2 separate regions of the Homo sapiens genome follow, and region 2 is linked to region 1. The links come from fine-mapping of genetic effects on gene expression. A gene starts in region 1. The other region holds a variant in brackets. All regions are shown on one strand. Distances are between the middles of the regions. Region 1 holds the start of DNAJA4 (DnaJ heat shock protein family (Hsp40) member A4). Region 2 holds the start of SKIC8 (SKI8 subunit of superkiller complex).

Region 1 (15,235 bases):
GTGCCAAGCACTGTCCAAGAGCTTTTCATCCTATAATTTATATACACACGTGTGGGTGTGTATACACACACACACACACACATAACCTTTTATATTCCTCACAACCCCCTGAGGTAGGTATTTTTTTACAGATAAGAAATTGAGGCAGAGAAGTTAAGTAACTTGCCCAAGGTCACGCAGCTAAGAAGTGATGGAGCCAGTATCACAACTGAAGCGCTGATGGGTTTATTTTCTGGAAAAAAACAAACTAGGAGACAGCAGAACAGGCCTGTGGCCCCAGCTTAACTGCAGACCAATACAAGCTTGAGCAGGCTTTTAAATATATACTCTTTCATGAGGATATTTTTGGGAGCAATAGATACGCTCACGTCTCGATTAAGATGGTGGTTTCATGGGTATATACATATATCGAAACTGATCAAGCAGTACACTTTAAATAGGTGCAATTCATTGTGTGTCAGCTGTTTTTATAAACTTTTTTTTTAAAAAAACTGATAGCTATTATATGATGGAATTAAAATATTTGTAATATTTCTACAGTAACTCTCAATTATCTTATGAGACTCCATTACGACATTCAAGCATATAAAATCCATGGTTCATTTCTGAATCTAAGGACTGCTTTGAGGATTTTGCTATGCCTCAGAGGAGCAAAATGTCTCCAAATTGAAACTGAGAGCTACAATGACTCAAGAAATGTTTTATAATCTGGCATTACTGAAAATAGAACACAAAGTATGCAAAGATGTTGTCTGTAACAACATAGAGATATTGCTGAAATAAAGTTAAAAAAATAAAATTTATGAAATAAATATACAACAAAAATTTTAAAGTACACCCCCCACCTTTGCTGCCCTAAGGATAAAATCCCACTCTGCCCTGAAGGCCATGCCCCCTCTCCATCACTGTTCCAGAAACACTGGTTCCTTTCTGGTTCTTCACACCTTGCGGCCTTCACACGTGCTGTTGCCTGTGCCTAGAACTCCCTAACCCGAGTCCTGCACGCCTGGCTCCTTCTCAACCTCCAGGATTCATGCGAAGGTCATCTCCTCCTTCTGACCACCCAGAATTCAAAAGGACACTTTTCCTTTGCTCCTACAGTTAGAGCTTTATTTCTAGATTTTTTCTTGTCCTCTGTGTGGGGGAGACAGGATCTGTTCCCCGGTGTGCTCCAAAGCCTCTTGCAACACTGGACACAAAAGGCACTTTACATATCTGTTGGAAGGATGGAGGGATGTCTTCTCTCTGGACTCTGGGACCTCAAAAGATGGGTGCCCTGATGAGAAAACCTCAGAATTTTGTCTCTAAAGCCCAAATATGTGGCAGGATGACCACTCCCTCACTTTCTTAGTTTTTTTCTCCCCAAACAGAGGCAGCCCCAACCTCTGGTGACAGCAACTCTGGGTAAAGGCCAAGTTCCAGGAAGAAGTGACTTCTCAGAGACCAGGCCCTAACCCACAGGAATGTAGCCAGGGGCTCAGGTTTTATTGTTCAAGCAAGGTGGCAACGGTTAACTACTTCAGTGTGAGTTCTTAGAAAATTCTATGGGTTGGAATGCTAGCAAAATCAGCCCGTGCTAGGGGTCACCCAAAGTGGTTGGAGTCAGATGTTGAGGTGCAGCTAGTCTCTGAGCTCCTCGAGGACAGGCATAACCTTAATCTAGTGCTGTATTGTTGGTTCCCAGCACAGAGCCAGACACATAGCTGCTGTGCACAAATCCTGTTGTGATGAAATCAATAAATTTCATCGTGAGAACACGTGCTTTCTGCACATGGTAAGCCCTTTACACATTGTCTCCATTCATCTGTACAATAATTCTGTGAAGCAGATGTTCTTATCCCCATTTTGCAAAGGAGGAAATGGATGTTCAGAGAAAGCTAATTTGCCCAGGGTCACACAGCCAGTGAGGGGCAAGGCCTCTCCAAGTGGAAATCCCTCCCAATATTAAAACAATGGCCTGAAATGACAACTGCTGTTTCGGGGGCCAATAAATTAATGTCCTCCCCTTGAAGTACTGGTCCCCCCCATTCCCAGCCTCTCTGCCACCCAGGCACTGTCTCCTCTACCCCTCGCTGCTCTGGCCTTGCATGATTTTGGTCCTCTCTGCTTTCTGGGTTCTCCTCTTGCTTCTCCGATGGCTGTTGCTCCTTCCACTTCCTAAAGACAGGCGCTCCCCAACGCTTTTCCTTGGAGCTCTCTTTCTCCTTCTATGCCCTCTCTCTGGGCTTGCCTCTACAAACCGGCATGCCCAGCTTGGGCCTCTCCCAGGAGGTCCAGATCCACCCAGCCCCCGGGGTCTGCTGCTAGTTACACCTCTCAGAACGCAGGTCCTGCTCTGAAACCTTCAATGGCTCCCCAGGGCCCAGGAGAGCAGCAAACTGCTCCTCAAGGCATTCAAGGCTCTAGCACACCTGTCCCTGCTTCCCTTCCAATTCAGAGCCTTCATCCATCTGTGCTCTCTGCCTTTATCCTGCTGTCCGTTCAGCATGGCTGCCCTCCCTTTCCCTGCTGCTAAAGGGAGCTCTAACTTCCTGGTCTATGGCACATGTCCCTCGTCCATGAAGTCCTTCCTGACCCCCCTCCCCAGGTAGGTGTGGCTTCTCCCTCTCAGAAGACTCCTTGAAGACCCCATCCCAGCATTCCTTGGGTAAAACCTACTTCCGTGCTTGCTTTGACTCTCCTTCTACACTGGGTCAGAAAGGAAGCCCCACACTGCATCAAGGGACAATGGCTGTTCTGTATAATGTGGCTTCTTTGTCTAAAAGTCTCCCCAACTGTAGAATGAGATGGTAGAACTGGATCAGCATTTCCCAAATTTCTGTCATTCAAGTATCACCACTGTTGCTTTATTCTTGTACTACAGGTACTATCATACACTTACTATTTATCTACTCTTTTTTAAAAGAATATAAAAAGGAAACCATACATTGCTTACTGTGAGTGGAAAGTCAGTGTCACTTTTAATAAAAGTTGCAGTAATGAAAAGGTCATCATGAAAATAAACACATAACTGACAAAATAAGAAATGTCTGTGTAATGCCTCCAATCCTCCCAAGCATAATTCTGGGAAATAATCTACTAGATTGTCAGAGGCTTTGTCTAAGATAAACAAAGCTGAACAGTAGTTAAAATTGTAAGGACAGAATTTAATCAGTCATAACTATTGCAATAGGGAAAACAATCTAGTATGAACTGAGCTCAATATCGATTTGTACGAAAAGTAATTGGGCATTTTGAAAAGAACATGAGGGAATAGGGAGAAGGACAAGCAGCAGTTTAACAGAATCAGGGAAGTGAAAAATGACAAAGGGTTGGTCAGTGTAAGTGACATTAGGCCAGCTGTGTCTGCTAGCTGCCAATTGCCAAAGTTAGGATGCCGTTCTCCCAAAGAGACTGGGAGACAGAAGCTCTATCCTCAGGTGTTGGATGAAACAAAAACACAGTAAATATTTTGGCAGCCTTGAGTTTTCTCAGGCAGGCACTTTAAGAGGGGGTAGTGGGGCCAGGGTCACCTTAGGTAGGGGCCCCCAACTCCTAGGCTGCGGACCAGTACTGGTCTGTGGCCTGTCAGGAACCAAGCAGTGGCATTAGATTCTCACAGGAGCTTGAAATCTGCTGTGAACTGTGCATGCGGGGGATCTAGGTTGCATGCTCCTTATAAGAATCTAACGCCTGATGATCTAAGGTGGAACAGTTTCATCCTCCATTTTTTTTTCTTTTTTGAGATAGAGTCTTTCTCTGTTGCCCAGGCTGGCATGCAGTAGCACAGTCTCAGCTCACTGCAACCTCTGCCTCCCGGGTTTAAGTGATTCTCCTATTTCAGCCTCCTGAGTAGCTGGGATTACAGGCACGTGCCACCACACCTGGCTAATTTTTGTATTTTTAGTAGAGACGGGGTTTCACCATGTTGGCCAGGCTGGTCTCAAACTCTTGAGCTCAAGTGATCTGCCCACTTCGACCTCCCAAAGTGCTGGGATTACAGGCCTGAGCCACCACACCTGGCCAAAAATATCTGATTTTACTAGACAATCCTATTGTTATTTATTTTTTATTTTTTGAGACAGAGTCTTGCTCTGTCACCCAGGCTGGAGTGCAGTGGTGTGATCTCAGCTCACTGCAGCCTCTGCCTCCCGGGTTCAAGCGATTCTTGTGCCTCAGCCTCCTGAGTAGCTGGGATTACAGGCGAGCACCACCATCCCTGGCTAATTTTTGTATTTTTAGTAGAGATGGAGTTTCACCAAGTTGGCCAGACTGGTCTTGAACTCGTGGCCTCAAGTGATCTGCCCACCTCGGCGTCCCAAAGTGCTGGGATTACAGGTGTGAGCCACCACGCCAGGCCTTCATCATAGAATTATTGCCCACCCCCACCACCCTGTCCGTGACAAAATCGTCTTCCATGAAACTGGTCTCTGGTGCCAAAAAGCCTGGGAACTGGTGATCTTAAGGATGTGACGTTGAATTATTAGAAACTGTGTTGCTGTCTGTTCAGTCTTTATAGGCCAAGACTGAAGCCTAGTTGAGAAGAGGGCTCATAGGAGCCTGGCTAAGTTCCATCAAGAAGAGAATCACTATCAGCTTCTATACCTTAGCCCCTGCCCGCACCCCCCCACCCCCAAAAAGCATCAATATTGTGACTATATACCAGGTGTTTCACAAAGTTATGAAGTAGTTATAATTAATATCCTCATTAAAAGGTTAAGAAAACTGAGGCTCAGAAAGGTTAAGTTGTCTGCCCAAGGTTCCACAGCCAGAAGTAGCAGTGCTGGGATTTGAACCTAGGTCTAAGTCTCACTGGTTCCAGAATTCACTGTCGTCCAAAGTGCATAGCTCCATTCTATGTTTCTAGGCTCTGTCTTTAAGCCATCCCTCTCCTGCACATGCCCATTTTACGAATGCCTATGGTCCCGAGTACTAAATCTGGACAAGTATGTGACCCTGGGCAGTGGATCTCGGCTCTGGCTGTACCACCTGGGGAGCTTGAAAAACACTGATGCCTGGGCCTCACCCCTAGAAGCTCTAAGGTAACAGGTGTGGAGTGCAACCCAGAGGGATTTTTAGAAGATTCCAGGTGATCTCTGTCAGGAGCCAGGTTTGAGACCCACTGCGCTAGGAGTCTTCACAGTTATCATCCCATTTGATGCTTATAAGAGCCCTGTGAGAAAGGCAGGCAAGTGGCAATCCCCATGTCCTGCTGACGAAGAAAAGTGTTGAGATGCTAAGGCTCAGACAGTAAGATCTGGATAGAAAACAAAGTTTCTGACCTCTAGCTCTGAGTTCTCTGCCTAAAGGTTCTGCTCTACAAGGCATAATTTAAAAAAAAAAAAAGCAACATCTCCAAGAAGAGCAGCTTAATTTCTCTTGTACAGTACAAGTCACTTCTCACCCCCATGGAACACATGGAGGAGAGGTAGTACCTGCTTCAGCCACAGTACCCAAAACAAGGCCAGGGCATCCCAGGGAGGTGAGCAGTGACCCCCCTTTCTGACAAACTGTTCCCCTGGCAGAAGCCAAGGGAGGGCTAGGGGACAGGGGCCTGCAATTCTGTGATAGCGTTGGGGCCTGCTTTCCACGCCCACTTTTCTGCAACGGTTTGTGATCTGGACTCCCTGAGCACCCGTTGGGAGCTGGGGGCAGCCTAGGGAAGTCGGGACCTACTCCTGTACCCTTCCAAGGCAAGCATCCTGGGCCACCTAGCCGTTTCAGGGTCCAGGCCATGGGACCCCCTGTGCATAACACTGGGCCCAACAGCCTGGTCGGGCCCTGATGTTTGCTCACTGATGATGTGCAGAGGAGAGGGGGCAGTTTCCCACTTCTGGGAGAAGAGAGGGCACTGTCGGCCCTTGGCAGACTTGGGGGGCGTCACTGCCCATATGTGGGGGACGTCACTGCTCACCTTGAGGGACTTAAGGGTTCCCAGTGGTGGGCATTCGAGAGGATACTGTCCACATCTGGGGCCAGCAAAGGACCCCTGTACCTCAACTGGAAGGCCAGAGGTTCACCTCAGCCTTGCAGTCATGAGGCAGCAGAGGGCCCCTACCCACTCCAACCCCCTAAAAAATGCAACAATCCCAGGCACACCTTAGGCCGCAGCCTGGCTGTGACCGAACAGACGGCGGCCACACCCCCGGGGAGAGGCCGGGTGGGGACCGCAGGGCGCAGCTCTCCCAGTCCCACCCTTCGGCGCAGGGCTCCGGCCAACACAGCCCTCCAGGCCGCCTACTCTCCAGCCAGCCGGCTCCACGGACCCACGGAAGGGCAAGGGGGCGGCCTCGGGGCGGCGGGACAGTTGTCGGAGGGCGCCCTCCAGGCCCAAGCCGCCTTCTCCGGCCCCCGCCATGGCCCGGGGCGGCAGTCAGAGCTGGAGCTCCGGGGAATCAGACGGGCAGCCAAAGGAGCAGACGCCCGAGAAGCCCAGGTGAGCGGCTGGGCCGCGCCGGACGGGCGTCGGGGGTCTGGGCCGCGAACCCGCCGCGGGGCCGCCGGAACCTCCGCGAAGGTTCTAGGCCTTTGTGGCGTCACCGTCTCCTTGCGGAAGCTTCCGCCGGCGCCGAATAAAACCCGCCGCGGAGGAGCCGGTGGCTCTAGTGCGGTGGAGCCAGGCGTGGAAGTCGGTCCGGCGCGGGGCGGGGGGCGGGCGGGAGCTACAAGCGGCGGCGGCGGCGGCGACCGTGACCGTGACGCGCGAGCGGGCGGCGGGGGCGCGGGCCAGGGGCGCGGGCCAGGGTGCCGGCAGGGGCGTCCGGGGCGCTCTGACCGGCCTCGCCCGCCCCCCCCGCAGACACAAGATGGTGAAGGAGACCCAGTACTATGACATCCTGGGCGTGAAGCCCAGCGCGTCCCCGGAGGAGATCAAGAAGGCCTATCGGAAGCTGGCGCTCAAGTACCACCCGGACAAGAACCCGGATGAGGGCGAGAAGGTGCGGGGCGGCGCGGGGCACGGGCCGGGCTCCCGAGGGGCCAAGGGTTATTAAGCCAGGAGCATTGAAGGCGACGGGAAACCTGAGCCGCGTTTGTTGGGGAGGCTGTCGCCAGGCGCCTCGGGGCCAGGCCGGGCAGAGGTGGCGGGAGACCCTGGGCGCCGTGCGGCGCGGTCGGTGGAGGGCGCTTCGCCCGCGGAGGAGGCATGTGGTGCGGCACTTGGGTCCCTCGCGAGTCCCTGCCGAGCCCATTCATTCCTCCATTCGCTCCACAAGTGTTTGGGTAGCCCCTGCCGTGCGCGCCGGACTAGTTCTCATAGGGTGTGTTGGTTCCCTGTGGGAGAGGCGGCCTGGGAATCGGGAAACTGAGGCACACACAAACAGTTGTTTACTTGCTGGGAACGACTGGCTCATATTCTCTGTTGATGCATAAACCCTAGGGATGAGTGTCTTTAATCTGAGCTGGTACCTTGGACAAACGCCGTGCCTCTCTTGAGAATGACTAGCTGGATTTGTTCTGTGCACCTACTGCCTACCTGATAAAAGCGTCAGATAGTGAATAATCCCATTTTCTTTATTAAACAGGGACACGGACATCTGCAACCTGACATCAGCTTGTACTCATATTCTGGGTTTTCGGTGACAAGTGACACACAGTTGATCATAAGTACCAATCATAGACTGAAAATGCTCTGCATTTTAGAGACAGAAGTTAAAAGCTTTTCCATCCTGTTTACAGAAAGTTTGCTTTTTATCTCTAAAGAGGCTCATGACCCACCTGAATAGGTGAATTGAAGGATGAGGCATTGCAAGGAAAGGCTGCTAACCCTCCCGTTCCTCCTTTCACTTCTTGCCATTTTCTTACAAAACTTTGGTTGTTCCGCATGGGTCTTGAGAGGTGGGGCCGTTATAGTAGCTGATAGCAGTGTCACTTGGGCCACGTTTGAAACCACACCAATCACCCATGTAGCATTTAAGACCTGTGGAAACGACGCTGGAATCAAAATACCTGTCTGTGTTAGTTGTTCCAAGCTGGAGAAAGCTACTTCAGGACGGTTGGCTGAATGGCAACAGTGATGGAATATTTATATTTAGCCACATGTGCTGAATGTGGCTGTCACAAGTTTAAAATGCTTTCCTGTAAGACCATTTGTCTGTTACTCACTTGCGTTCTTTCTCATCTATATTTAGATGGCTTACTGTAGCTTTTAAAGGCACTGGCGTTTTACATGGTGCTGGTGATTCATCCACCTGCTCCCTACATTCATTGTGGTCCGCTTCTGACAGTCTCCTTTAAGGAGAGCTTGTAGGCTTCTAATTTCACATTTCAGCAAGCTGGCTAAAGACATGTGGGAAAGCCTGACCCTGGATTCAGGTCAAATCTCAGCACTCACAAGAGTAAGTTCATGCCTCTGTGTATACAGTTAGAGCTGAATATGCTTTTGTTCTGAAGCTTTTATTTTTAAAAAATTAGACTTGACCTGTACTACATATGTGTAGGTTTCACCCTGTCTATACCTGTCTGGGCAGGTTGTTTGGTTTGTTTTAAACTAATATTTATTCATAGCCAGGCACTGAGTTAGTGTCACATAAATGAGGCCCTTGGCAGTGAGGTCTGGCAGGCCCATCAGCTTGGAGGGAAGGGTTCTGTGATGTGCCCATTGCCAGGAATACTTTCCTTCCTCTACCTTCATGGAAGGGGATAAAACTCTTTAGTTCTCAGCTAAAACATCTTCCAGGAGGCTGCCTCTGCCTCATAGACTGAACCACAGGCCCAACGTGCATCCTACTTTAATGGTGATTACTTGTTTGATTAACTGTATTCCTTTAATGGTGATTACTTGTTTGATAACTGTATTACCTGCCATAATGTAAGCAGGGCAGTGACTGTGCCCCCATGGCCACTTATGGGGTGAGTATCTAGCTGTGCAGGGTAGGTGCTAAAATGTTTGTTAGCTGGCTGAGTAAATGCACTTTAAAAAATTGTGTGTAGGAGGAGAGGGCCCTATAAAGGCACAAATTGGAAGGGAAATTGCAGTGAAAGGGATATTGGGAGGAGAGTGGCAATTTAGATCGGAAATCAAAGAGGATGAGGAGACTGGGGACACAATTTATAGAAACGGCTGTAGAGTTCCCCAGAGAGAGCTCATTCATTCATTCATTCATTCATTCAACAAATACCTCCTCTTCTGGTCCCCACTGTGTGCTGGGTGCACTGTGCAGGCCTTTTGTGAGTGTGTATGTGAGTGTGTGTGTGAGTGTGTATGTGAGTGTGTGAGTGTGTGAGTGTGTGTGTGAGTGTGTATGTGAGTGTGTATGTGTGTGTAGTTCTTTTCCACTTTATCACAGGTAGAACCTTTAAATTTTTTTTTCCTCCTAAGTTCGTCACTGTATTATTAACGTCTCTTCAAAAATAGACTACACCAGTTCTTTACCCCTTGCTGGGAAAACTGAGAAGGCCGTTGAAATGTTGGTCTTTGTTTTTTGCCCTGTTGTCCCCTGTTGCTAAGCATTGGGGCACCTTGTGTTTTTTGGGCACTCTGTATGGAGTCTGTACTTCTCTGCGGGTGTTTTTTTTTTGTTTTTTGTTTTTTTTGCAAGATGCATGGGTGGTAGGTAGTGGGTCACCAAGATAGTCCCTTTTAGGGGCAATGATGTGGGGTATATTCTTGGCTATTACCCTGTTGAGATGAGTTTGGTCTTTTGGTCAATTTCATTGTAACTTTTAGTTTGAATAATAGACTTTCAAGTTCAAAAATCAGAACATAGCAAACCATGCAGAAAATTTTAGAACACAGAGGGAAACCTACCAAGTACACATTATCCTAACCACTCTGTGCTTCTTTCCAAGCTTTCCCCAGTATGATCATACATGGCCATCCTGATACATAGACATTTTGTTTTCTTGTTTCCACTTAATATTTTATTATAAGTACTTTTCCCAAGTTGTTACGTAGTCTTCAAAGCCATTTTCCCCTCAGCTGTATAGTAATCCTGTTAAGGTTCTGTGGCAAATGATCATGGTCTGAAAGGCAAGCTCATCATAGCACTCGTCTCCCACTGGGAGAAGGGGGTCCGGGCCGGGAGCTGAATTAGACTTTGGAGTGCTGGGACCCTAGAGGATGGACTCCCTACTGGTAGTTGGAACCCCCATCCCATGTGAGATCTGGCCTCTGACTGAATGTCCCAAGCAACTGGGTACTCCTTTTCCATTCTTAGATCATTCTATTAAGTCTAAATGACATGTGAGTATCCAGGGTATTTGGTGAGTGTTTCCGGTGGACGTTCCCATGAAGTTATTTACCTAGTCCTGACCTGCAGATAGACGCAGAAACTGTCTAGGGGCAGCCTGGCCTAGTTGCTTTCTGATCTGTACCAGGCACCCAATCCTTACACTCTACCTCATGTTTTCTGCTGAGGAAAGGGATAGTAGTGAATGGTACTTACTTCTTCGCAGAAATGGTATGAGAATTAACATATCAAAAGATCTAGCTGCCTTATATATGATGCTGATGTCTTTTTAAGACTTTTCTAAATTGTAGTTTTTTAGCTATTTATTAGCTATTATTATTGGTTACTTATTAGATTTCAATCAGGGATCTGTAGAACAAGGGAATTAATGCCTCAAATTCCCTTGTTCTCTCTCTCAAATTCCTTATTTCATGGCACTTTTTTTCCCTGAATATTTTTTGGAGCCAGCTGCATTATAGGATCTGTTTATCTATATATCCATATTTGTCTCTCCGACTAAACTGTAGCCTCTGGAGGGCCAAGATCCTACCTCATTTATTTATTTCTGAGTTCCCAGAATCGAGCCATTCATCTAACAGGTATTTACCAAGTGCCTTCTACATGCCAGGCATGGTTCCAGGCTCAGTTAGACAGCAGTGGACAAAACCCCCCATCTTCATGGAGCTTATGTTGCAGTGGGGGCTACAGCATAAGCAGTAGATGATGCAGCTTGTTAGAAGGTGGTTCATGATATGGAGAAATATGCAGCAGTTGTGGGGGCTGGGAGGGTCTGAGGTGGGTTTGCAGTGTTAAAGCTGGATCACCAGGAGGCATCCCTGAGAAGGTGGTCTGTGAGCTAAGGCTGGAAAGAGATGAGTCGGGAGGCCGCACCAGGCTGAGGTGCCTCTGAGGCCCAGACTGCAGAGTTGAGGAACAGCAGGGAGCCTGCTGAAACTGGCATAGAATTGGGGTGGGGACACACAGGAGGAGAGGAAAGTACAGGTGCCAAGTTGGGCTTATAGATGAAAGTTAGGACTGGCTTTTACTCCCAGTGACGTGGGCCACCTTGTAGAGGTTTGAGCAGAGGATCGACCCAATTAGTGGGCTCGAGTGGAGAACACACTGAAAGCTGGGGTGAGGAGGGCACATGGAAGACCACGGAGGAGGCCACTGCAGTGGTCCAGGCCTGAGATGGTGCCTTCAGCCAGAGTGGATGTGGTGTGGTAAGAAGGAACAGATCTTGCATGTTTTCGCATTCTGATTTTATTTTAAAAATGTCCATATACCTGCAGAAAACATGAGTGATACAATGAACACCTATGTATTCTTCACCTAGCTTTACCAGTTATAAATAAGTTGTCACATTTGTTTTATCTATTATTATTATTACTGTTGGCTAAAGATTTTGGGAGGAAGCTACCTATAGCATAACCTTTCAGCCCTAAGTGCTGCGTGTTTCTCTTGGGCACAAGGACATCCTTGTACATAACCATAGTAAAGTTATCAAATTCAAGAAGTTTAACATTGGGAACAAAGATTCACATTTCTCCCATTGTTCCAATAATGTCCTTTGTAGCCATTTTTTTTTTTCTCCCCTGTGCAGGATCTGATCCAGGATCACACATTGTATTCGTTTTTTTCTATCTTTTAATTTTAGAGTATCTCTCAATTTGGGTTTTCTGATTCTTTTCGTACAATTGGGTTCCAGTGGTAACTTTTTGGCAGGAATGCTACACATGGGATATTGTGTCTGTCTTAGGGTACTGGAGATGCAAATGTGAAGGTAGCATCAGTGGGATTTGTTGACAGGTGAGATTGGCATTGCCAATAACTGTGATATGGGGAAGACTATGGGTGGGGCGGGGCTTTTGGGGGAGGATCAGGAGTATAGGTTTGTATCCAATGTCTGGCACGTGGTTAGATGCTCACAGATGCCTGTAGTTGAATTTCATTCTAGTAAACTAGTGAAATGATTCCCATGAGGAGGTGAGCCAGTGGTAATGCCCAGAGTCCTGGCTCTATCTGGTTAGAGGTTCACCCCTGGCACTGTCTCATGGTATCCTAGCTGGTCTCGACTTCCTGTCTGGTGCAGCCGGATTAGTGAGAAACTTTCCCTCTCTACTGGCTTCTCTCCCTTATTCTTATCGTGTCCCTACCACCAGTCCCTTAATATGTTTGCCCTGTGTTTCCCACTTTACCAAAGGAGTAGGTAGACAGGCAAGTCAGATTCCAGGTAGAGGATGTATAGACTGGCTAGTTCAAGGGTTTGGGGGCAGAATACCTCTATTACTTTGTATGTTTATATGGCAGGTTTGCTTAACAAAACAACTGAAACTTCTCTAAAAATCTCTCTCTCTCTCTCTTTTAAAGTTTAAACTCATATCCCAGGCATATGAAGTGCTTTCAGATCCAAAGAAAAGGGATGTTTATGACCAAGGCGGAGAGCAGGCAATTAAAGAAGGAGGCTCAGGCAGCCCCAGCTTCTCTTCACCCATGGACATCTTTGACATGTTCTTTGGTGGTGGTGGACGGATGGCTAGAGAGAGAAGAGGTAAATGCTTTTAAAGAAACATAAATAAGTTGTATGGTTTCCACAATTATACGTGTTGTTGGAATCAGGATAGATCATGCTTTAAAAGGATATGATTGGGCCAGGCGCGGTGGTTCATGTCTGTAATTTCAGCACTTTGGGAGGCCAAGGTGGGAGAATTGTTTTAGGCCAGGATTTCAAGACCAACCGGGGCAACATAGTGATACTCCCCATCTCAAAAAAAATAAAAATAAAAAACTTAGCCAGGCATGGTGACTCATGCCTGTAGTCTCCGCTACTTCTTGAGATGCTGAGGCTGGAGGAAAACTTGAGCCCAGGAAGTCGAGGCTGCAGTGAGCTCTCCAGCCTGCACGGCAGGGTGAGACCCTGTCTCAAACAAACAAACAAACAAACAAAAAACCCCACCAGGTACAATTGCCATGTTTTGAGATCATTAACTTTAAAGAGTTTATCACTTGTCTAGTGCTCAGGCTACCTGGAAACTCTTGGTAAATTTAGTAATTATCTGACACCCTCCAATACCATATGAAGTAGCGAATGGAGTGGTGGATAGAAAAGAGGAAGGTGAAGTTCATCGTGCCTTCTTTTCCTCTGTTGTTGGGGTCAGGCACCAGAGTGTGCTGAGGGATGTAGATGACGCCGCCTGTGGTTGTCAGTGATCCTTTACCGAGAGTGTTCCTCTCTCCTCTTGCCCACCCTCCCTTTGTGGCCCTCCATGTTCCCTGACCTGGGCGTGGGCTGCAGGCTCTCTAATTCTAGGTGGGTACTCTTGCCATGTTCAGTATGGCCTCATTTCCCAGCCTGCTCAGGGGATTTTCTAGGCAACAAAATTCATCTCTTTATGTTTTGAAATCTTTATAAATGACCTGCCTTTCTTTTCAGAATGCATTATGAGTAGTAGCAACTTCATCCCCAGGAGGTGAATGAGGAACTTCTTAGCCCTTAGCTCAATGGCCCCAGGCCACTGTTTTGACTTTCTCGGGATTTGTTCTTCCTAATTTTTCTGCATCTCACCTCTGCCAGGCTACGGGCTGTCACCTCTGTTGTTAGTAGTTGCTAATAGACTAGTTCCCATTCCCCCTGTTTAGTTTACTGTTGTCAGGCTGCTTTGGATCTTGAAACCAGAAAGATAACCAAGCGTATTACAATTCTGGATAAAGTCAGAAGAAATGAGCTCTGCCTTGGGGTTTAAGAAGTGTGGCTTTGGTCAGTGAGAGGCCCCTAGATAAATGAAGCTGCACTTGTTATCACATTGTAATTGACTTTGAGCTTGAAAAAGCTTGGGTGTCAATTCTGTGAACATAGAGTGCTGAAAATCACAAAGTGTTTATTAGGGAAAAATCCTTCCTCTGTCCTTTGAGCATATCGCCTGCTCCTATAATTGATGGTGTGGACATGATAAAACCTTGGGTACTTTGGGAGGCCGAGGTGGGTGGATCACGAGGTCAGGAGATCGAGACCATCCTGGCTAACATGGTGAAACCCCGTCTCTACTAAAAAATACAAAAACTTAGGTGGGCGCGGTGGCAGGCGCCTGTAGTCCCAGCTACTCGGGAGGCTGAGGCAGGAGAATGGCGTGAACCCAGGAGGCGGAGCTTGCAGTGAGCCAAGATCGCACCACTGCACTCCAGCCTGGGGACAGAGCAAGACTCTGTCTCAAAAACAAAACAAAACAAAAAAAACCTTGGGTATTCTCTTGTCCAGCTCCCTCACTGTCTTGAGATGAAAAACTTCATGCCCTTAATTAAGTCATCTCTCAAAGTTGGCAGCCAGTAAACCAGGACAGCTCATCTCAGTGACTGCAGGAGCTCCACGGGCAGCAGGGAGGGTCTTGATGCTGTCAGTCTTGACAGGCTGGCAGGTGCTGGAGCACACCCCCACCCTGTGGACTGAACACCCACTGTCCTGAGTTGCAGAAGCAAGATTTTGGCAGAGGAAAGAATTCCCATTTGGCCACCGGTTACAGAAGGGCTCAGAAAGTAAAGTGCTTTATGCCCAAGGAAGTGAAAGATCCAGAGACTTTGGCTGCCAAACATTTATGTATAGAAAGGACTCCTTTCATGGGGAAACTTAACCAATTTCGTGGGTTAATACTGCCTTTGGTTTCTCAATTAGTACTCTCCTTGTCCTCAGATTTGTTCTCAGAAAATAAAGGTGGAAAGTCTTTTTGTTGGCCTCTATAAATGATTGAATAATTAGCTCATAGCTAGAGAGGGTATTAGCTCTTGTTATTGGCTGAGGGCCAGAAGGATGGGCTGGGGTAATAGAAGCATTGCTTCCTGCAGGGAAGGGAGCGCATGACCCAGCCACAGTCTTGAGTCTCTGGAGACTTCATACAACTAAGGGTCATATGGGTGGTATTTAATACAATGGTATATTTCATTCAACGCCACTAATTTTTTTTCTCCCTTGCTAAGGCAAGAATGTTGTACACCAGTTATCTGTAACTCTTGAAGATCTATATAATGGAGTCACGAAGAAATTGGCCCTCCAGAAAAATGTAATTTGTGAGAAATGTGAAGGTAAAAATTAATTT
Region 2 (15,235 bases), 41 kb after region 1:
TAGTATAGGCTACCAAGATACACTACCTCTTACTTCAGGGTCTTATGAAGGTCAGAGCTAAGAGACTTTAGACCTTAGCCCTCTCTTGCCATCTTCTCTCTTTGGGAAACTTTTCCCTAAATTTCCTAGGCAGAATTCATCACTGACTCAGTGTTTCCAAGGAACACTACAGATGCCTCTATGAAACTACTCAGGCAAGTCAACAGCCCACAGTATTGCACGGTACTTGGCGTAAAGCGAACCCAGCCTCTGTCTGTACCCGTCCAGTGATGTCTGTATCTGTCCAGCACGCTACCTAAGACAGCGTGGCCCACTACTGGAAAACTTCGGTTAATACAGCCCTCCCAGCTACGGATAAATGATCTCCTCCGCAGAGAAACCAGCCCTAATCTCGATACTGCCCAGAACATTCTCAGGACGCAAAAGGAGGCCACCCACGGGCCTCCCCCACTCCCCTCAGGCCCCGTACACCGAGGAACAGCCAGGGCAAATGGAGCCATGGAAGCCACCCTCAGGCCCCAGGGCCTGGAGCATCCCTGAACGGACCTGCTTACAGGCAGCCTCGGGCCCAACCTCGCTCACTCGCCCTCTGGCCTGGACTGTCAACGGCCCTAATGACCCCAATCCCCAACGGCCCTGCGCTCCAACTCACCACTGCACTGCCAGGCTGCACGTCGGAAGCCGGGCTCCGCGCGACTGCGACGCGCAAAGATGAGCTATCGAAGGGGCGGGGCATCGCGCCGGCCCCGCCCTCACGGCTCGGAGCACTCCGCAGCGCCCGTTGCCGTCGCTATGGCGGGCGCGGGGCAGACGCCGACGAGGGTGGGCGGAGAGAGGAGGGAGGAAGCCAGGTCCTGCTTCCAGAGGAGTGGTAGTTGGAAATTTGCTTCCGGAAGCGCAGACGTTTAGCTTCCGGCAACTGCAGGTTTAGAGGTTTGTGTTGCAATTTCATTTTGTACTTTTGAGATTGGACTAAAGCTAATAACTTCTGTTGCTGAAATAAATTCAGTGAAATCGAGCTTTGTCTTTCAAACTGCTAGTCATGACCCATTAACGTGACAGATATCAGTTTAATAGGTTGTCAACTGACTTTTTTTTTTTTTTTTTTTGAGGGCCAGGCAGAGTAGCTCACGTCTGTAATCCCAGGACTTTGGGAGCCGAGGTGAGAGGCTTGCTTGAGCTCTGGGTTTCCAGACCAGCCTGGGCAACATAGCGAGAGACCTCGTGTCTACTAAAAATAAAAACAATTAGCACATGCCTGTAGTTCCAGTTACTTGGGAGGCTGAGGCAGGAGGATCGCTTAAGCCCTGGAGGTTGAGGCTACATTGAGCCGTGATGACGCCACTGCACTCCAGCCTGGGGAACAGAACTAGACCCCGTCTCAAAAAAAAAAAAAGAGATGGGGCTGGGTGTGGTGGCTCATGCCTGTAATCCCAGCATTTTGGGAGTCGGAGTGGGTGGATCACTTGAGGTTAGGAGTTTTGAAATCAACCTGGCCAATATGGTGAAACCCCGTCTCAAGTAAAAAAAAAAAAAACAGAAACAAAAACAAAATTAGCCGGGTGTGGTGGCATGTGCCCGTAATCCCAGCTACTTGGGAGGCTGAGGCAGGAGAATCGCTTGAACCCTGGAGGCAGAAGTTGCAGTGAGCACAGATCACACCACTGCACTCCAGCCTGGGCAACAGAGTGAGACTGTCTCGAATAACAACAACAAAAAAAGATGGGAAGAGGCTCATGCCCCATTATGGAGGCCGCCCTGTGGCTCAGATGTGGTGGCTCACTCCTGTAATCCCAGCACTTTGGGAGGCCAAGGGGGGAGGATTGCTTCTGGCCGTGATTTCAAGACCAGTATGGGCAACATGGCGAGACCCAATCTCTACAAAAAATTTTAAAGTTACAGACGCAGTGGTGTGCACGTGTAGACCCAGCTGCTCAGGAGGCAGAAGTGAGGATCACTTGAGCCCAGGAGTTTGAGGCTGCAGTGAGCTATGATTGGGCCACTGCACTGTAGCCTGGGTGACAGAGTGAGACCCTGGCTCTAAAAAATATTTTTCGAAAAAACTAGTTTTGAAGTTCAAATATATATATAGAGAGAGAGACGGAGGACTATTAGACCACTTACAACTAGGTGAAGTTCATCTTTGGGGGCTTTTTTTTCTTTTGAGACTGAGTCTTGCTGTGTCACCCAGGCTGGAGTGCAGTGGCGCAATCTCGGCTCACTACAACTTCTGCCTCCTGGGTTCAAGTGATTCTCCTGCCTCAGCCTCCCCAGTAGCTGGGACTACAGGCACCCACCACCACACCCGGCTAATTTTTTTTTGTATTTTTTTTTTTAGTAGAGACGGGGTTTCACCATGTTGGCCAGGCTGGTCTCAAACTCCTGACCTCAGGTGCTCCACCCACCTCTGCCTCCCAAGTTGCTGGGATTACAGGCATGAGCCACTGCACCTGGCCATCTTTGGGGGCTTTTTGAGGAGGCTATGTGTGGTGAGAAATTGGCAAATACACCCACATCTCCCAGGACCTATTCTCTTGTCCTCAGTAATCTCACATTAACACAAAAGAGAAGACATCCTGCAGCTCTTCTGCTGCACACATGACTTCCCTGCATGCCAGCATCCTTAACCCTCAAGTTCACATGTTTCAGAGTGATATGACTAATTTTTCTCAGTCACATTGACTGGAGAGCTATTTCTCTCCTTCCCAGCTCTGTGACATCTCTGTCCATAGAAATTTCATCCAGCCCCAGTGGACCCTCTGCATGTCACTGGCTTAAAAAGTTTGGGTCAAAGTGAGCAGACTTCAAGACTGAATTGTCAAAATTCTTATGTGGCATCTCTTATAAGTCAAGATATCCTTGTAACCATTCTGGATCTATTGGACCAGGGTCAGGCATGTGCCCCTGAAGCTAAGGAAGAATGTACAAATTATATCATGAAGCCAGTGAGCTGATTTTCAAACTTAGATTGACTTAAGTGCTGACTGGTGTTCGGGCACATTCCACAGAGCTAAATACACAGAAACTGACCCTGCAATGGCTGGGATGTGGGTTCCTGAAGTGTGGAAAGGAATTAACATTAGTACTACAAAGCAATGGCTTTTAGCAGTTAAATGAGTGACCTGCTGCCTTCCTGTATAACCAGTTGCCTTAGTTTTGGCCAATCTGCTGCTTTGTTTTTGTTGGTGACATTTACGGGTTTTTGTGGGTTTTGGAAATAGATTATTATGTAACCTCTCCCACACCGAGATAATTGGGCCATCTTCACTCTAACTTTTAGCTTTTGAATATGAAGAAGTATTTTTGAAAGACTCCTACTTTAAGAAGGGTGAAATTTTGGCTGTCAAAAGTGCTCACAACTGTATGACTAAGTGAATTTTAATTTGTGTGATCTGGGGTTATGTAAGGTTTTTTTTCTTTTCTACACATTAACTTTAAATACCCCACCTTCAAATTATTCTAAAAGCACACTGATCACATTTATGCCTTTTAACTTAAAATTTAATTAAAATTTAAAATTAAAAAAGCATAAATGTGATCAGTGTGCTTTTAGAATAATTAAGCCAAATACTAAGGCTTTCCATTTCTGTTTACTTGCTCCCAAATCTGCTACTAATAATTTTCAATTGAAGCCAGTTGTTTTGGATAAAAATTCAATTAATCATCTCAAAAAAGAGAAATGGAATACATTAAGAAAGAAGTAGAATAGAAGATATAAGAGTGCATCATACATAGTAAAGTTACATCATGTTTTATAAAAACTGTTTCACCCATGCGGTTACTGGGTCACAAGTGAAAATCCATTTCTTGCTATGAGTCATGGCCAAACACTTTGAAAATCATTGTAATAAAGACTTTCTAAAGACTTTCCAGCTTTATAATTCTATAATTATGACAAGAACTCCAAACCATTCATTCAAAAAGGATGTATTAAGTACCTACTTTCACCACATTCCCCCAGAGGGCCAGACATATGGGATCATTGGCATGACCTTAGCATTGGGACTATAAAGCTAGAATAATTGGCCTTTTTTACACTGTGGACGTCTCAGGCATCTGATGAAACCAATGAATCCTGTCCCAGAACAATGGGGTTTTTTGGAAGAAAAAATTTTAATTGCTGTTGCAAAAAAACATCAGTATGGAGTAGAAATTGGTTTCTATGGCATTATTAGAGAATATGTTCTAGAAAGTGGAGGTAACTGGATGTAAGATTCTGGCAGCAGTTTAATAGATAACAGTCCCAGATGTTTAGGTTGAGGCCAACGCCTAATTAGGGTGAACGGTTTGTGCGTGTGTAATTTTGGACAATATCTGGAGAAAGGTTACACTGTGCACAAACCAAATTTAATTTTTTTCACAAGTGTTGTAAAGTTTCTTATAATAAAAGGTTTTTGCTACATGCACTTCATTTTCACATTAAGAGTGTTTAGAATACCTAGACACAAAAGAGAGCATTCATGCAAGATATGCTACTCCTTGATATAATAATGCATACAGTTCAAAATGTTTACCCTTTTTTTTTTTTTTTTTTTGAGACAGAGTCTCGCTCTGTCGCCCAGGCTGGAGTGCAGTGACGCGATCCCGGCACACTGCAAGCTCCGCCTCCTGGGTTCACGCCATTCTCCTGCCTCAGCCTCCTGAGTAGCTGGGACTGCAGGCCCCCGCGACCACGCCCGGCTAATTTTCTTTTGTGTTTTTTTTAGTAGAGACGGGGTTTCACTGTGTTAGCCAGGATGGTCTCGATCTCCTGACCTCGTGATCCACCTGCCTTGGCCTCCCGAAGTGCTGGGATTACAGGCGTGAGCCACCGCGCCCGGCCACTGTTTACACTATTGTTGCAGTAGCTGCTGCCATCACCGGGCTGCGGCAGGGAGGCACAGCTGGGGCTGCATGCTGGTGGATGCCTCCCCCTTCTGAGTTGGGGAGAGCTCCCCAGGTGCTGCTGCAGCCGCCCAAACAGCAGTTGCAGATCCAGGCCTCCTGCTTTACGGAGCAGGCAGGGTCGCCACCCTCCTGGGCGGGGCTACAACTGCCCAAACAGCGGCTGTGGATCCGAGCCTCCCGGTGCTCTTGGAGGGGGCTGGGAGCAGGCAAGATCTGCCCTCCTAGGTGCAGGACCCAGAGGGTCTCTGCAGCCTGCACCCTCGTGGACCCCAGAAAGGACCCCACCGCACCCCGTCGCTAGGGGGTGTCTGTTCCTGCTGCCTGGCCTCTCTCTGCTGCCGCCCCTGCTCTGATCATGGAGCAGGGCTTGGGGCCAAGCCCCAGGGGCCATGAATGACAGTAGGAGGCAGATCGATTCCTGGGCAGAAGGGGGTAGGTCTCCAGTAAGGCCCCACCTTCAGGTCAGGGAGGGACTGAAGACTGGGGACCAGGCTGCCAGTCCCACAGACCTGAGTGGGAGCTTGTGGTGCCTCCTCCAGGCTCACCCATGGCCGCCCATGGGCCAGTCAGCACACACTTCCTCCCTTCTGAGGTCCATAAAAGCCCTGGGCTCAGCCAAACTGCAGGAGAGGATGGAGAGACAGCGGGAAGAGTAGCTGTAGAAAGGAGCTACCCTCTCTGCCAGAGCTGCAGAGACCTGCAGAGCCTTTCAAAGGACCTGCGGAGAGGAGGCCCCCCTCCTCCTGTAGAGACTTCCAAATGACCTGAGGAGAGGATCCCCCAGAACAGCCTCCTTCTCCAGGAGCACCCCCCGCCAGGATCCCCTAGAGCAGTCCCCCTCTCCAGGGTTGGGTCTTCTCTCTGCTGAGAGCAGCCCCCCTCTACAGGGTGAGGTCTTCTTTTTGCTGAGAGCAGCTCCCCTCTCCAGGGTTGGGTCTTCTTTCTGCTGAGAGCAGCAGGTGGCAGGATAACCAGTGGGCAGAGGGGGAGCTACCCTCTCCAGGCCTCCTGTCTGCTGAGAGCTGAACACTCCATGGGATGACTTGCTCAGAGGAGCTACCCACTGCGGGTCTTCTCTGAGCTGCTTAACACTCAGTAAGTTCTTCGAGTACCTCATTATTCCTGGACACAGGACAAGAACTCAGGCAAAGGCGCTCCCAGGAAGAAAATCAATACCTCCCACACCCGTCCAAAGATCCCGTAACACTACCATTACATCTGAGGCTTTCTGCAACTACAAGGGGGTGGTGGAAAGCTTGGCCCTCAGTATCAACATCAAGAAAGCAGCTACCACCGTCTCTGCCTGTTCTCTTTTTGCATTTTTTTCTTTCATTTTTCTTAATCACCTCTGCTATTGCTGCTGCTTAGCAAAACTGGTAAAAACAAAATTGTAATCACTGATGCATCACCCAGATAATCCTCAAATTCCTGCCAGGGAATCCTCTCAGATTCTCTCCAGCGTGCTGTAAAAACCACCGAAGTCATTTGGGCCAGTGCTGGCAGCAGCCCTCCTGAGTCTGAGTTCCCACTCAAAGGTCATGAGATCACAGAACAGCCAGGTGGGGCAGAATAATGTTTTCAAGTACATAAGAACAAGCCACATAGGATTACAAAGGAAACCAATTATATCAAAGTAGTTATCAAAATATTTGTGAAACAGTAGTATATGTGCTTTATTAATGCAGCATGTCTAATATCTTCTGTTATTTTATTTTTGAGACAGGGTCTCGCTCTGTCACCCAGGCTGGAGTGCAGTGGCGCAATCACTGCTCACTGCAGCCTCAATCTTCCAGGCTTAAGCGATCCTCCCGCTTCAGCCTCCCAAGTAGCTGGGACTACAGGCATGTGCCACCATGCCCGGCTAATTTTTGTAATTTTTTTTTTTTTGGTAGAGAAGAGGTTTTGCCATGTTGCCCAGGCTAGTCTCAAACTCCTGGGCTCAGGTGATCTGCCCACTTCAGCCTCCCAAAGTACTGGGATTACAGGCATGAGCCATGGCTCCCAGCCTGTTCTGTAATTTTAAAGTAGCAGTGAGCATAAACAATATTTAGAATTACTTGCAACAGCTGCAATGTGATACGAAAATATTTGTGATTTGTATTGGTGACAAAGTCACAGGTACTACTAATACTCCTAGATTTATTGCATACATTTATAATTAAAGAAGATATTAAATTCCAGTTACAGTTTAAGGGAAATAAAGATATAATTATTTTCCTATCAAAGTTCACAGATCCACGGAATGCCCATTGTAAAGCAAATCTGGAGAGACTTGCCATTGTATGTGACATTTAAACATCTGTAATTAGAGTTCTGGTCTTCCAGGTCAGGAGGAAATGAAAAGATTTTAGAATAAGATAGGTAAACATCCAGGCTAATGATGAAGTAGCTCCAAGATGTAAGGGCTGCCCTGAAAAGCTCTACAATTCATAAAGAGGCCAAGGTTGGGAGGCCCCCTCTAAGGCTGCAGCCCCACAGGGACATAATTGTTCCCTGAGTCATTCACTGCCTTTCCAACTAGCCCTGCATAGAGCAGACCCACAGAGAGGCTCAAGCAGGAAGAATGATACTAGGCCACAGTGTCCCAGGACTTACCCCTATACTTCTCCTCTCCACTCAGTCACAGGTCCAAGCATTTCTGAATGAAGAAGAACCTCACAGATCTATCTCATACCTCTCTCCCTCTATACAACCCCACCATGGGATCATCCAGCCTCTGTTTGAATACCTCCAAGGACAGGGAGCTCACTACCTCCTTGGGAGGAAGAGCTGCCTCCGCCCCAGTTCCGGGAAGGCTTACTTGACTTCCCGGGAAAGACATGAATCAGCAGGTCTGGAGAGGGGTGCAGGCAAAAGTCCTGCTCTCTGCTCAGCACAGGGAGAAGGAGAGGGAGGTCCATGGGCCACATCTGCCCTGTGTAGAGCTCTCAAGGCTCTCCTCAGAACCCCAGCTGGCAGAGTCTGATGTCAGGGACCCCACCTGCCCTTTCTGATGTTTATCCCAGGTTTCCTCTCTGGACCCCACAGCTGACACCCGACTCTCCTTCTTCCTAGTCCCCCTCTTCCCTCCCCTCCTGCGGGCCACAGTGTCTCATGTGGTGCCCCTCTCCTTCTACAGATGCCACCCTCACTCTGCCCCACAAGCTTCCCCGCTTTCATCAAGCAGCACCTCCTTCTCTCCTCCATGCCCCACCAGATAGGCCCCAGGCGCTTTTTGTTTCCAGTTTTGGCACAAAGGGGTTAAACAACTTGGCCTCTAGAGCACAATGCCTGGGCTCAATCTTGGCTGCTCCACCCAAGGCTCTGGTAAATTATGTAACCCCACTGGGATATCACTAAAATGGGGATAATACTAGAACTTTCCTTTTAGGGCTGATATGAGGATTAATAGAGTTAAAATATGTAAAATGCTTAGAACAGTGCCTGGCACAAGGAAAACACTCAATAAATGCCAGCTAGGATTACTCTTACAATTGCCATTCTGGGACGTCTCAAACATACAGCCCACTGTTAGGGAAGGCCCTGAAAGCCCCCAGGTCTCTTTTCCTCACTAGCTTGCCAGATGGCTAAGGGTATTTACATCTCTGAAGTTTATAGCCAGGGCAACTTCCAGACTTCACCCAGCAATCAGCCACTCTGAGCATTTCCTCACAAGGAAACTTCTAGAAAGTTATGCCTCCTCTTTTCTAAAGCAGTGACCACATGTACCTATTATTAAAAATTTATTACTGGCTGGGCACGGTGGCTCATGCCTGTAATGCCAGCACTTTGGGAGGCCGAAGCAGGTGGATCACTTGAGCTCATAAGTCTGAGACTAGCCTGGGCAACATGATGAAACCCCTCCCTGCAAAAATGTAAAAAAGGTTAGCTAGGTGTGGTGGCACATGCCTGTGGTCCCAGCCACTCAGCAGGCTAAGGTAGGAGGATCTATTAAGCCCGGAGGCAGAGGCTGCAGTGAGCTGAGATGGTGCCACTGCACTCCAGCCTGGGTGACAGAGCAAGACCCTCTCTCACGAAAAAAATAAATTAATTAATTAAAAACAAAAAATTATCACCATGCATTCTCCTGTGTGTACATTATTTATAAATATATATGTATTTATACTACTATAATATTTATGTACATTATAAAACAAATATAAAAATAGAAGAGGGACAAGATAAAAATAAATATCAGAAGATCTAATATTTTCTTCCTATACTCCAGACGGTCTTGCTCACTGTCTGGGGTATACACATTCCACTTTGGAGACACTAATGTCTTCAAATTTTAATTTTGGTTTCAAACACTGGGAGAGCTGTGATGGTGGATGTATGGACTGGGCCACGCCCTGAGAAATAACTCTCGCTAGTGCTACGGAGGAGGGAGTCACCCTGTTTCACACAGAGAAGGAAACTGACCCTGAGAAAGGCGAAGTGGCTTCTGCAG[G/A]GTCATTCAGCCAGCAAGGCAGAGTAAGGATGGAAACCCATGCTGAATTGGGTGTAGCTGATTTTTTTGTTCATAATTCCACAGTATTAGGGAGGGAAAGCGGGGAAACAGGAGCTCACAGGAAAGAAAGGGGTATGGAGAGGGTGAGGGCAGGACAATTATGGGGCCAGAGGCGGGAGTCTGGATTCAAATCCAAACCCACAAGGACACATCACTCCTTTCTTCAGCTGGTCCATGGATACTGAATCAGGGAACCTCTTGGAACTGGCTTCCTACCCTGCAATCAGGGTCCTTGACAGTCCCCAGTCGGGAACACAGACCACCACAGTGGAGCCACTAGCCAGGGGCTTTACCACGGCTGGCCAGAGGATGGCAGTCACTGCCTACGCATGCCCACTTGGCTGGCGCCGCTGATGGAGTAGCAAGTACCTGCCCTCCTGGGCTCCTCCAGACTCCGGAGGCAGTGAATTCCTGCTCTTGAATCATTATGGGACCCCTCGTAAAGGCATCTTAGACCTCAACTTCCTCATCTTGAAAACAAAATTGTTAACACCATGGTCTCAATCCCTAGTGGTTTTCAAAAGTGTGGTTCCCAGACCACAGTTGTAGATTCTGGAAGTGAGATCCCCAAGGGAGTTACAGCAGAAGGAAGAAGCCAGGGAGAGAGCATCCTGCCCAGAAGCAGCTGAGGCCTCCCATCCTCTGCACATACCTGACTGAGGGGCTGCATCCTGCGAGCATGGCCTGGGGGACTAAGTTCTTTGCACCCAGCAACTGTTCAGGGTGGGGTTTCAATTCGCTTCACCAGCTGCTGACCAGCGGTTGGTGGTCACCTTCAGTACTTGGCTATTCTGCCAGGATCCACCAACTGGACCTTTTTGGGGCCAGGCTGGGGATACTCAAAGGAGTTAGATGAAATCCCTGCCCTCAAGGAGCTCACAATGACTCTTTCTCACCAGGACTCTAAGCCATCTTCAACCAAGATCGACTTTCCAGCGGAAAAGCCCTAGCTCCTCTGATTCTCCCTACATAAGAGGTGTAGGAATTATGTATCCCCATTTTATAGAAAAGTTGGCACAGGGAGAGCACGTGGTTAATCCAGAGCACCTGGTAAAGCTGTGGTGGAGTAGGGAGCAGAACTCAGACCCCTTGAGTCCTCATGCAGCCTGACTCTCTGCTCTGAGCAGGCTGTGGGCATGGCCCAGAGACCGGATGGGCCAATCCAGGGCCTGAGTCCCTCCGCTGTGCCCACATCCTTCAAAACTGGGCAGGAACCAGGAGTAGACTCACCCCACACTGGGGGACTGAGTCATACCTCTCGGGGACCCAAAGTGCAACCGAAGGGAATCAGGTCCTATGTGTGGAGAGGGGACAGGGACCGTGAAGCCCAGCTGTGTATGAAATTCTGCTGTAGTTGGGGATCATGCCATCACTTTCTGGACATCGTTGGCATTTACCTATTCACATAGGAGGCAGCAAAGTCAGGCCAAAAAAGATGGCTGCCAAGGCACTTGAGAGTGTAGGAGGGTGAGCCAAGGAGGCCAGGGTGGTGGGCCTGCCAGGAGGAGGCTGTAAGCCTCTGAAGGGTGGCAGGAATTGGGTATGGAAGCTGTGAGCTAGTGCCACTGTCTGCAATGAATGAGATAGAAGAGATTGGTAGGTGAGCATGATGACGAAGGAAAAGGAGGTGGGGTCTTAGTCTGTTTTGTGCTGCTATAACAGAATACCTGAGACTGGGTAATTTATTATTATCATTATTTATTATTATTCTCTCTCCTAGGCTGGAGTGCAGTGGTATGATCTCAGCTCACCGCAACCTCCGCCTCCCGGGTTCAAGCGATTCTCCTGCCTCAGCTTCCCCAGTAGCTGGAATTACAGGTGTGGGCCATCATACCCAGCTAATTTTTGTATTTTTAGTAGAGATGGGGTTTCACCATGTTGGCCAGGCTGGTCTTGAACTCCTGACCTCAGATGATCCGCCCACCTTGGCTTCCCAAAGTGCTGGGATTACAGGCCTGAGCCACCGTGCCTGGCCAAGACTGGGTAATTTAGAAAGAAAAGAAATTTCTTTTCTCACAGTTCTGAAGGCTGGGAAGTCCAAGATCAAGTTACTGGTGTCTTATAAGGCCCTTCTTACTGTGTCATTCCATGGCAGAAGGCAGAAGGGCAAGGAAGGGAGAGGGAGAGACAGGGTGATGGGGGAAGGCGAGGAGAGACAGAGACAGAGAGAGAGAGAGAGAGTGCAAGAGGGGCTGAACTTGTCCTTTTATAAGGAACCCACTCCCACTATAACAGCATGAATCCATTCATGAGGGTGGCATCCTCACGGCCTAATCAGCTCTTAAAAGTTCCACCTCTAACACTGTCACTTTGGGGATTAAGTTTCCAACACACGAACTTTGGGGGACACATTCAAACATAGCCAGGGGTCTGCCTGGATGGTGAGAGTCTCAAAGGGGCAGAAGGAGGAGAATCAGGGGTTCATGGTGTGCTGGTAGGTGTTTAACAACAGGCTCTTCAGAGAAAAACCCTAAACCTGGCTTATAGCATTTGCTGATTTCCATAGTGTAAATACAGCTCCCATGGGCTATTTCTTTTATTTTTGAAATGGAGTCTCACTCTGTTGCCCAGGCCCAGGCTGGAGTGCAGTGGAGCTATCTTGACTCACTGCAACCTCTGCCTCCTGGGTTCAAGTGATTCTCCTGCCTCCCGAGTAGCTGGGATTACAGGCACCTGCCACCATGCCCCATGGGCTATTTCACGCCACGGACAGGAAGTTGCTGACCAATATGTACAATCTGCTCTGGTAAGCTGGTATGTACCAGCTCCAGCATCCCCTTGAGTGGTTCTGTTATGTTGCTGGGGGTGTCAGTCTCAATCCAGGTGTGCACACCTGCAGTGTCCCCTCCAGAGGCTGCCAGGAACCGCTGTCCTCTACAGAGAGCCAGCTGTGGTGACAGCAAGGTTGGAATAAGGGACCGTGAAAGAGCTGAAAATATAGGGATTTTTATTTACAAAGTTGGTGGTGGGGTTGGGGGGAGGTCAAAGGATTGAGAGCCAGGTGGGAAAGGCAGGACTGCAGGGAAGTGCTGACCCAGAGGGGCCTGCACTTGGGAGGCAAGGGGGCAAAAGGAGCTCTAGGAAGAGAACTCACCGCCGTGAGGTTTCCAAAAGAACCTGGAAATCCCTTCCTGCCACAGGTTAAGCCCAGGATCTCTTGCCAGGGTGAACAGGTGCTGGCCCCAAGCTGGTAAGCTTGGGAAAGTCCCAGGACTCCTGTATCGAATGCACTTCTGAAGGACAAAGGGAATTCAAGAAGCCAAAGGTAGCTTTAGAACAGCCTCACCACAAAGCTCCTTCCACACACTGCCCTTAACTCAGAGAGAGAGCTGAGGTCCAGGCCCCCCATTAGATGTGAGTCTCCAGTGCATCCTGGTGCCAGAGCTGGCATATCCAGGTGAAAGCACTGCTTTTACTCCTTGACTGCCATTGCACTAAAATTAATAGCAGAAGAATGAAAGCATGTGGAGACCTTGCTGTGCAGTTACGCCCAAAGTGCCCCTGGAGGCCGAGGGGCTTAGCAGCCAGAACACGGAACCTCACATCAGGAGCCATTACTGTTATTGTCACTGTTGATATCATTCCTAGTTTTGATCATTAAGTGTGTGCCAGGCATGAAGCTGGCAAGTCACCCAGATGGCCTCAGGAACCATCTCTGGCTCTGAAAGGGAGACTCTCTAGCCTGCCTCTGCCTGAACCCTCTCTGGACCTCAGTTTCCCTAGCTGTCTGTCCCGTGAGTCCATTGGCTCTGGGACTCCTTCAGTTTTTGTTTTGAGACAGAGTCTTGCTCTGTCACCCAGGCTGGAGTGCAGTGGCGTGATCACTGTCACTGCAGCTCAAACTCCAGGGCTCAAGCGACCCTCCCACCTCAGCCTCCTGAGTAGCTGAGACTACAGGTGTGCACCACCATGCCTGGCTAATTTATTTTATTTTTATTTTTGTAGAGATAGGGTCTCCCTGTGTTGCCCGGGCTTGTCTCAAACACCTGACCTCAAGTGAGCCTCCCGCCTCGGCCTCCCAAAGTGCTGGGATTACAGGCGTGAGACACCACGCCCAGCCTCCTTCCAGTTTTGACCTTCTGATCCACTTCAGCTGTTCTTGACCATGGTGTCCTTCCCACTGACTTGTCACATTAGCTGTGAGCTGCCTGTGTCACACGCGATGAAGCTGACTACTGCATAGGACAGCTTATGTGCATCACGTCACATCTTCTCAGCCTCTTCTCTCTTAGTACAGCCACTACCCTGGGGTCCGTTCTGCACAAGTTTCAACCAGCTCTGCCCAAGCGTGAGCTGACAGCACCTCCCCTCCCCCAGTCTCCACCTCTATCTTCCTGCCCTGGGAATCACTCCACATTCACCCAGAAGAATTGTTGCCTGTGGGACAGCCTTGACCAATGGGAGATTGAAGCTGATGAGTAAATATTTCCCCCTTTGGCCCCTGAGGGACAGTTCTGAGATGCTTGACACAGGCCCTTCAGCGCTGGTGGCCAACTCAGCAGTGCATCCTTGATCTGGCTTTTGCTTCTTCCTTTGTTCCGCCCCTGCCCCTCACTCCTGCTCTCTGGGATTGAATTCCTAAGACAGCTCCCTGCTTGGGGTCTTTGTCTCAGGCTCTGCTTTAGGGGGAATCCAGGCTAAGACAGTTTCCAAGCACCCATGATTGCAAATAATCCACTGTTTTGATAAATTCGGCCAATTTTTTTTTTTTGGTGTGCAAATAAAGTTCTCATTCCCTTGCCTTCAGAGATGATTTCTTGAGGGGTGAGAAGGGGTGTGGAATAGGGACACTCCAAAGAGCCTTTTGCAGCCGTCGGGAGAAGGCCAGGAACCAGGGGACCTGTTGGAGGCTGGGAGGTCAGTGAGGGGCCTGTGCTGGGTGGGCTGGGGTGTCTGTGGGAACTCATCACATTGGTGTAGGGGGTAACTGCTATTGGGGGTGTCTTGTGCCTGAAGAACTGAGTTATTCTCTGAGCAAAGCTCTAGATGTAAAGAAACTGACCCAGATCCTCCACGGACTTCAATTCCAGGCTCCTGCCAAATCAGTGGGGAACGGGAAACCAAGTAATAGAGGCCCCTAGACTGCAGAATATCCGCTCTGAGCACTCAGTCAGGAGGACAGGGATCCTGCCGAGCTGAGGTCCTAGAGGAGAGGCAGTGTTTCGGGGGGATGAGGAGGTCATACTCCACGGAATGGCTAAAAAATAGCAGCATCCTTGGCCTGCAGAGACCGGGGAGGCAGAGGCGGGGTGGGTGCTGGGCCTGCTGGGCAGACCTCAGTCAGGCTATGCTGGTCCGAGGGAATGCATATAGTCTCTGACCTCGAACGGGGCCAGGCTCTAGGGACAGGCCACAGAGAAGCACCTGGACTCATAGGAAGAAGGGTCTTTCTCACAGGTTGAACCATGCCACAGGAGTAGGGGCTGCCTTGGAGGTATAAGCCTCCAGTCCCAGGGGATGTACAAGCCACAGCTGGACAGCCAAATGCAGGGCAGGCAGAGTGGGCCCCAGCAGCACAGTGTGGTGCCCCAGCCGCCCCTCAACACCAGCCTGCTCCTGTTGCTGAGCTGTGGTCGGGAGGACTGCAGAAGACTGAAGGAATCTTCGAACCAGGACAGCTCCAATGCTGGACTCCTTCACCCTCCGATATCTACCCAACCCACAACAGGATCTCCGCCCTGTACCTCCCCACTCTCAGCAACCAGATCTTGGGGGCTTCTGCTGTGCACAACTCTAAGATCCAGGCAGCATCCTATGGGCTTTTCAGGGCTGTGGGCTGGCGTGAGGCCCTCCTCTCTGGCCTCAATGCTCACACTCCTTATGATCTGCCTCCTCTCCCATCAAACAATGTCCCTCCTT

Evidence for each region.
Region 2: its variant is fine-mapped to the expression of DNAJA4 in blood mononuclear cells (TOPMed, PIP above 0.99).

The regions. Positions count from the first base shown.
Region 1 is chr15:78,257,979-78,273,213 of GRCh38, forward strand. DNAJA4 (DnaJ heat shock protein family (Hsp40) member A4) reads left to right here and starts at 6,584. Exons shown (of 7, transcript NM_001130182.2): 1 at 6,584-6,917; 2 at 12,519-12,699; 3 at 15,117-15,221. The coding sequence starts at 6,786. DNAJA4-DT (DNAJA4 divergent transcript) reads right to left here and starts at 6,166. Exons shown (of 4, transcript XR_001751621.1): 1 at 6,079-6,166; 2 at 5,894-5,979. RefSeq lists silencers at 6,438-6,517, 6,828-7,117.
Region 2 is chr15:78,298,910-78,314,144 of GRCh38, forward strand. It overlaps SKIC8 (SKI8 subunit of superkiller complex), which reads right to left and starts at 700. Exons shown (of 11, transcript NM_025234.3): 1 at 653-700. RefSeq lists enhancers at 1-865, 418-767, 866-1,832, 1,008-1,097. The variant G/A (reference allele first, on the strand shown) is at 9,317.